Linked DNA regions of Homo sapiens: region 2 is reported to be linked to region 1. Evidence: microRNA targets listed by miRTarBase, many of them from high-throughput screens and not tested one by one. Region 1 holds a microRNA gene; the other region holds the end of a gene's coding sequence.
What was found. Region 1 holds the annotated microRNA hsa-miR-6086 (GGAGGUUGGGAAGGGCAGAG, at 2,162-2,181, shown strand). A microRNA usually pairs through its seed, bases 2 to 8, with sites in the 3' UTR of a target mRNA and lowers its output. Matches are read on the target gene's strand: a 7mer-m8 pairs with bases 2 to 8, a 7mer-A1 pairs with bases 2 to 7 and ends in A, and an 8mer does both.

Region 2: miRTarBase lists AGTRAP as a target of hsa-miR-6086. Seed matches in the 3' UTR shown: 7mer-m8 at 2,847-2,853.

Annotation. Positions count from the first base shown.
Region 1 is chrX:13,588,132-13,592,279 of GRCh38, forward strand. It overlaps MIR6086 (microRNA 6086), which reads left to right and starts at 2,161; the gene lies at 2,161-2,215. It overlaps EGFL6 (EGF like domain multiple 6), which reads left to right. Exons shown (of 12, transcript NM_015507.4): 2 at 1,425-1,537.
Region 2 is chr1:11,749,569-11,753,568 of GRCh38, reverse strand. It overlaps AGTRAP (angiotensin II receptor associated protein), which reads right to left. Exons shown (of 5, transcript NM_020350.5): 5 at 2,800-3,492. The coding sequence ends at 3,377. Among named protein-coding and RNA genes, the nearest start is that of C1orf167, 11 kb to the left of the region's middle.

The DNA of each region.
Region 1 (4,148 bases):
TTCCATTAAAAAATGAAAAAAAGTTCTCTTCAAGAAAAAGTAAATGTTAAAATCATCCTCCCATTTGGTGCTCTCAGTAAATGAAATGTCTCAGACCATATCTTTATAGCTCTTAACTGAGTAATCACATTTGTGGGAGAGGCAGATCTTGAGGGAAATCTACAAGGTTGTTTAACTTCCCGACCTTGACTTAGATATTATTAACTTGCATGAAGTTCAGTTCTGTAGCAGAAAGCACATGGTAAAATGTGCATTCCTTTGTCTGTTAAAGAGCCCAGGAAACATTTTTACAGTGTATTTAATATGTGTAAGGAAATAATCACAGCCCTCCACTAAACATACAATGCAAGTATTTTCCTTCAAAGTCTGGTAGCAACCCTGTCCAATACCAGGACAGTAAGTAGGTAAACATGCAGTGAGCTTCATCCATGGCGGCACTACTTGGGGGCACTTGGTGGGGGACAGGGGGCTCACCTTTTTCAGGCATCTAGATCAGGCAAGCTACAGCCTGCTGGCCAAAGCTAGGTGATCCCCTCTTTATAAACAGCCCATGAGCGAAGAACAGTTTTTACATTTTTAAATGTTAGAAGATGGAGCAAAAGGAGAATACCATATCATGACACAGGAAAATTATATGCTATTCAAATTACAGTGTCCATAAATAAAGTTTTATTGGAACACAGTCATGCGCATCTGTTTACTATTGCCTATGGCTGCTTTTGTACTTGGACAGATATCTTATGGCCCTACAAAGCCTAAAATACTTACCATCTGGCTTTTTACAGAAAATGTTTGCCGATCTCTGCTCTAAAATTAAGCAGTTTAGCAAATTGGGTTTCCAGGAGGTCAATGGGAACGAGCCCTGGGCTAGAATTCCCAACACCCAGCTCTGCTGGGGATGTGACTCCACTCCATTGGACTGGAGTTTCCTCCTCTGTAACATAAGAGGGCTTTGCTGAACGAGCCCTTCCAACTCTTAATCATCTATAGTGTATGTTGATTCCAGTCTATTCAATGGTTCCCAGGTGCCAGTGGGATAAAAGTGCAGAGCTCTGGTCTGGGACAAAGCCACAGGATTAGAAAGTGACTGAAATAGACAAAGAACTGGATAGTTGCTGTGCGTATACAGAGCAGATCTGAAAAGTGACACTCTACAAGGTTCAAAAACATATACTTTGGACATCTTCATGTGCCCTAGTTTTATAGATTCTTTTAACCGTGGGGAAGAAGGAAATGGTTGAAACTAATTATTGAGGAAGGCTGGCAACCCCAAAATTCAGGTTTTCAAAATCTAATTTAGCACTTACTGCGGGTTCGTTGAAATTAACCAGGTAATTGACATCTCTGGTTCTTTTAGTAGTAGGGAAGAGTTTCTGTTGTCTTTTCTATTTTCTCAATACTAACATGTAGTTCTTTATCTGCAGTGCAAGGCATCACGGGTTGTTAGCATCGGCACGTCAGCCTGGGGTCTGTCACTATGGAACTAAACTGGCCTGCTGCTACGGCTGGAGAAGAAACAGCAAGGGAGTCTGTGAAGGTAATTTTGTAAAAACTCAGACCCTGCACTTGGATCAGGGCCCTTAGGTTTTTATCTGTCATACCATGAACTGCCACAAAATTGCCAGTGGATCTCTCAGGCAAGGACATGCATAACTACCAATAACCAAGGTCTGGGTTCCTATGAGATCTCTTCCCAGACAAAATGTGGCTGACGCCATCATACTTGGCATGATTTATTTTAGAAGACTGTCTTGTCAATTATTTTTGTGATTATCTTAATGAGTATGACTGGGTTGTTTGTTTTTGGTTTTCTTTTTAATCTAAAGGAACTAAGATGGGCAAAAGCAGGCTGGTAAATTTCTCCTCTAATTATAATTTAAGTGATTTCCAATGCAATAAACTTTAATTATTAATCACCCAACCAGTAGGCTTCAGCCACAAAATAAGTACACCTTTTAGCTTATAGATTTGTAACTCACATTTTTAAAATTCATACTGCCAATTTCTAAATGCTTTCAAGGTACATATGCATATATGCAAAGATTTTAAGTATTTTGCTGATTTTTTTGTACATTGCAAACCAAGGAACCATAATTTGCCTTGGACATTGTTTCTCAGACTATGTGTTAGGAACTCCGAGAGAGGCCTCTGATCATTTCAAGGAGGTTGGGAAGGGCAGAGATGAGCATAAAGTTTTTGCCTTGTTTTTCTTTTTATGACTTTCCATAACGACCAACACTGGCAGTGTAGCAGAACCAAATCCACATTCCTCCTGACTGTCTCACCAGGGGTGTATTCCTTCAGGGCAGTAGTCTACTCTCACTGTCCCTGTGTCCTTCAGTAGGTAGCATGTGCCTCATCCTAAGTTATTTATCTATTAAATGGGATAACAACACAGTTGCAGGTCCCATAAAAGCACTAACATGTTAGCTATTTTTAGGAATAACAATGCTACCTTCTTTTTGCTAGTCTGTTCCTGCCCCAACCTCCTTCTCTCTGGCTGGTTAAAAAATATCTGGATTGACCATAAGTGGGGTCAGAACTTGATAATATCCAAAATCTATAAAACAATAGAAAACATTGATATCGTTCCCACATGTTCCATATTATGCAAAACCTTCTGCCATCATAGTTTGCTTGTGACAAGATGACAAGAGCATAAAAATACTAGACAAAAACAAAGATCATCATTGCCCACTTAGATAAAGGAAGTTAGAATATCCTCCTGGGACTTGTGTCAATTAAAAGGGTGGGTCCTCATCCTGATTGGATTGATAGTGTCATGATCAAGGGCATTGAGAACCAGACTGACGTGGGTGACCTTGGGCAAGCTAGCTAAGGTAAGCTAGCTAAGGCTCAATTTCCTCCTCTGCAACCTGGAGAGAGCAATACCTACCTCTGAGAGTAAGGAATGTATGCATTAAAGGGTGAGTTCATTACCTGGCATGCATAGAAAATACCTCATAAATTACCATTCCTTCAGGAAGGACCAATAATTCTCATCACAGACTTCTCGTCATTAAAGCACCAGGTGATGGGGGGATTAAATGTGGCTTTATTCTTTTGCTAGACACAACATAACACATTTTTATTTGAAGTCAGTCAGGTGGAAAGGGGCAAAAACCACGTGAAACACATGATTTAGAGTCTCTCTTACAGTTGCACGAACATCAGCGTCTACTGCCATAAAACTTGTGAGACCCAGCATGTCGCTGGTGAATAAATGAAGGCAAGGTGTTAAAAGGGCAAGTGCAGGGGGTTCAAGCAAAATGCTCACTATGCAAGTTTTGCAAGCTGAAGAGACGGTCAGCACACCTACTGCTCCAGTCAAATGTTCAGGTCTTAAATTGCAATGATTTTTAGATCTAAAATGTGTATCATGTTTTATCCAATTTGCATGGTCCTTCTTGATGGTAAAGTCATGTTTCTTGAAGCACCAAATAACAGGGTAGTTATTCCCTGATTGCTGGGTTTCTGATTTCTAAGCCAGAGTTGTGGGATGCATGATAATAAGAATACACATCAACCTGCCCCAACAAGGAGAGCCAGACCCCAGGCTGTGAGGTCACAGTCTACCCAGGCCTTCCCCTCTGTCCATCTATTTGCCCTTCACTCCTTTTGAAGCCCTGCCTCTATGTATCCTGGAGCCTTCTAGCTCTCAGCCTCTACCCTGTCTAAATCTCCTCCCAAGGCAGGGTCTCATCAGTTCGATATCATTAACCTTAAAATGTATGCCACTTCAGTGAGATGAAATACAGAATTGTCCATAAACAAGTACCTGATGAAAAGCTTCAGATAGAGAAGTTTGGGGGAGAACCAAATAAGACTTTTACTTTGTCTAAATCATGCTTCAATCTCAGGCCATTTTAAACACAAACTGAATTTCCCTTGCTGTCGATTGGCTGTTGAAGTCACAGATCCAAAGTTACTGTAAATTGAAAACATCTTACTGAAGCTTTAACCTTATAGCAAGGGTATTATTCACCATTTCTCCTATGTTCTATTTGGCATTTATGCTGGGCTTTCCTGTCTGGACCACATTGGAAATCAGTTTCCAGGGAACAACTAGAGGTCTTCAGGGCTTAAAAAAAAAAAAAAAGATTTATTTTTCTAACATCTGAATTTAAAGTTGCAACTCCAAGTACATA
Region 2 (4,000 bases), not on the chromosome of region 1:
TGCAAGCCAGGTGCAGTGGCTTATGCCTGTAATCCCAGCACTTTGGGAAGCCAAGGTGGGCAGATCACTTGAGGCTAGGAGTCCAAGAGCAGCCTGGCCAACATGGTGAACCCCATCTCTACTAAAAATACAAAAATTAGCTGGGCATGTTGGTAGGCACCTGTTATCCCAGCTATTTGGAAGGCTGAGGCAGGAGAATCGCTTGAACCCAGCTGCAGTGAGCCAAGATTGCACCATTGCACGCCAGCCTGGGCAACAAGAGCGAAACTCTGTCTCAAAACAAAACAAAACAAAACAAAACGCCAGGCGCAGTGGCTCACGCCTGTAATCCCAGCACTTTGGGAGGCCGAGGCAGGTGGATCACAAGGTCAGGAGATCAAGACCATCCTGACCAACATGGAGAAACCCCATCTCTACTAAAAATACAAAATTAGCTGGGCGTGGTGGCGCATGCCTGTAATCCCAGCTACTCAGGAAGCTGAGGCAGGAGAATTGTTTGAACCTGGGAGGCAGAGGTTGTGGTGAGCTGAGATCGCGTCACTGCACTCCAGCCTGGGCGACAGAGGGAGACTCCGTCTCAAAAAAAAAAAGAATATAAGGCAGACCTTGCCCGGCTCTGACCAACACCCTCCAGGGGCTCCCATCTCATTCAGCCAGAACTGGAGTCCTCAGAATGACTTGCTAAGCCTGCACATCTGACCCCAGCCACCTTCTGACCTCATTGTCTTCTTCTCTCCCTCCCCCACCCTCTCTGCTCAGCCACTCTCTGCCTCAGGCCTTGTTAGCTGTCACCAAGAACCTCTCATGCTAAATGGAATGCCCCTGGGTGACTTTTCCCGCACCCTGGCATCCCCTGCCTCTGGAACACGGCCTCACTCACAGTGGGCTCTGGGGCGCTTGTTGTATGTTAGAAGCTCTCCCTGTTAAGGCCGCTGTGTGGAAGGGGCAGCCACATGGTTGCCTCCTCCACCGTTTCTGTCTGCCTCTGATGGCCCTCCGGCTCCCGACTGCCTGCACAGTCGGGGGGTGGCACAGTGCCTGCAAATCTAAGCCACCCTCTCCCACTCCCTGAGCAGCTCCTAGCCAATGACTGGAAAGCCTGGCACCCTTGCTTTCATCGCAGGCTCTGCTTCTGGGGTACACTCTGAGACAGGAGCTTTCCTCTGTCCTCTCCCGCAAAGAGCCGGTTCAACCTGGGGGTCTGGGACGATGAGGGACTGAGGTGTCTAGATACACTCCCCTGTGCGTGGCCCAGGCTGCATCATCTGCCCCCACTGCCTGGGCCAAGCCCCTGCCCTGGCTTTTCATTCCCTTTGGGAATCTGACACGTTCACGACGCAGGTACACAAGCCTTCCCGGGGCCAGGATGCTGTATACACAAGATAAACGGACTTGGGTCTTAGTCCCATTCCCCTCGGGTCACGCTCCTCCTCCACCCAGGGTGGCTACAGTCATGAACCTGACAGGTGTCCTTCTAGTCCATGCTTTTCTATTTTACCGCACATACACCCAGGAACAACATATGGCATTGCTGTGAGGTCTGAAAATTCATCCCAATGCCATTCTGCAATCTGCTTTGTTCACATTTGCGGGGGGCCAACGTTGGTGGAAATAGGTCTGGTTTAACAGCTGTAACTGCTGCACTGTGCTCCATACGATGAATGGACCGTGGCTTACTGGTCCGTACTCCCTATAATGAATGGACCGTGGCTTACTGGTCCATACTCCCTACAATGAATGGACTGTGGCTTCCTGGTCCATACTCCCTACAATGAATAGACTGTGGCTTCCTGGTCCATACTCCCTACAATGAATAGACTGTGGCTTCCTGGTCCATACTCCCTGTAATGAATGGACCGTGGCTTACTGGTCCGTCTCCCGACAGTGAGGCTGTTTCCAGTTTCTCACAACTGCAGCTGCTCAGCAGCCCTCTGCCCGGAGCACAGCCCCTTCCCCACAGCAGCCTTCCTCCCTGACCCAGAGGCCCATGTCCTCTTCTTTCGGGGCTCTTGCCTCTGTCTGTAATCCTCCAGGTGGGAAGACTCCTAGGTTGAGAGCAGGCTCCCAAGGTCACCACTGCAGCCCCAAGCCCGCTCGGCACCAGGCAGGTACTGAGCCTCTTTTGATTGACAGATGGACGCAAGAGAATAATGGGAGTTGTGCACTAGGCCTTGACCCTGTGCCAGGGACAAGCCAGGATGGCCTGGGAAAGCCCTGGCACTTGGTGCCCAGGGGGCAGAAGAGCAAGCTGTGAATAGCTAGACCTGTCCGTGGGGTGGGCCGAGGCCCTGGGGAACTTCTGGACGTGTCAGCCCAAGTCAGCTGTGACCAGACACAGGGGCTACCAGGAAGAGGTCGCCCCTGCCTCCTAACCTAGCATCGTCACTGGCCTGAGGAGCAGGTCCACTGCTAACAAGTTCACCATCACTTAGGGAGCCCTCCTCACGCCAGGCACTTCACACCTGGAGCAGGCACCAACCCTTTCTAGAAGACACTGAAGGCATGCAGCTAGTAAGTGGCAGAGCAGGATTCCAAAGAGTGCCTGGGTCATCTGGTTCAGAGAAACGGATGCCCACGCACCACACCCACCAGTGTCTCTCTCTCCTGTGGCCTCTGCTAGGCCAGAGCCAGGCTCAAGCCCAGCTCAGCCAACGCACATGCCTGTTTCCTCCTGCCATGACAGAATGGGGCAGCACAGCACAGGCTCCACCTGGGAACTGGCAGGAGACATCTTCCCAGGAACAAGGCCAGGCCCCAGCCCAGCCAGGAGATTGAAGGTGGTTCAAAACACAGCCCATCTACAGAATTCCCCAAACTTTAATGCTGTGCTCTGAAAAGGGAGGCTGGAGGTTGTGGTGGGACACAGTGTTGCTGACACCTCTGGCCTCCAGCCCTGCATCCCTAGGCACCATGTGACCAGGCAGTGAGAAGGACGGGGCCTCACTCCCATGCCAGACTGCTCCTCGGGCTGAGCAGGACCTGAAGCTCTCAGGGCTTCCACCAAAGCCCAGCAAACTTGGGGGAGGCCTGAGGGGGCATCAGCAGTCCTTAAAGGCCTGAGCTTGCAACACTCAGGCAGGACTCGGCTGAGGGCCTCTGTGGTGCCACCATGGGGTAGGAGGTAAAGAGAGACCCTGGTTCCAGCCTGGGAACCAGTGGGTGCCCTGAAGGGAGGGGAGGCCTCAGGGAGTTCGGGACAGGAGTGTGCATGGTACTGGGCGGCCCATGGGGGCTCCTGGCCTCTTGGTTCAGGCAATCCCTGAGCTGGGGACACATTCCATCTTAGGTCCAAGAGACGGAGGTCAGGAGCATCCCTAGAACGACCTCCCAGGCACGAGGAAGGCCCGGGGCAGGGCCGGGCGCAGCGTGGCTGGCTTCAGTACCCTCGGGCATCTTGACTCCTGCCCTCTGGGACTGCAAAGGGATCTGCGGGCGCCTCTGCTGAGTCAATCGTCTGGTAGGCACTACGGTCCTGAGAAGACCCAAGGAAACCTAGGTGACAGGGGACATGGTGGGAAAGAAAAATGAAGGGTGAGAACTCGGGATGTTCAGCTGAGTCCAACCCAAGATCCACCCCCGCCACCCTCGGGCTGGGCATCCTGACACCATGCACAGAGACAGAGGCAGCAGCCCCAGGCCCTAAACCTTTAGCGTGTATTATTCATTCAATCCTGCCGTATCCCTGTGCGACGGGTATTTTTATTGTCCCCACTTTACAGATGAGGAGACTGTGGGTCAAAGGGATGAAGTGACTTGCCCGAGATCACACAGCTCAAAGCTGATGATGCTGGGACCCACGCCTAGGCAGCCGAGTCCAAAGCCAGGCTCCTGGCCCCTGTGCCATGGGCTTCCCCAGGCAGCACGTGCTTAGGAACCTGGGCAGAGGGACATCAGCCCCGGGCCCACGCACTCCTCTCCAGCTCCCCTCCCAGGTACAAGGACACCACATTACCATATCCAGATGGCCTCGGAGGCTGGGGCTGGGTCCAAGGCAGGGCCG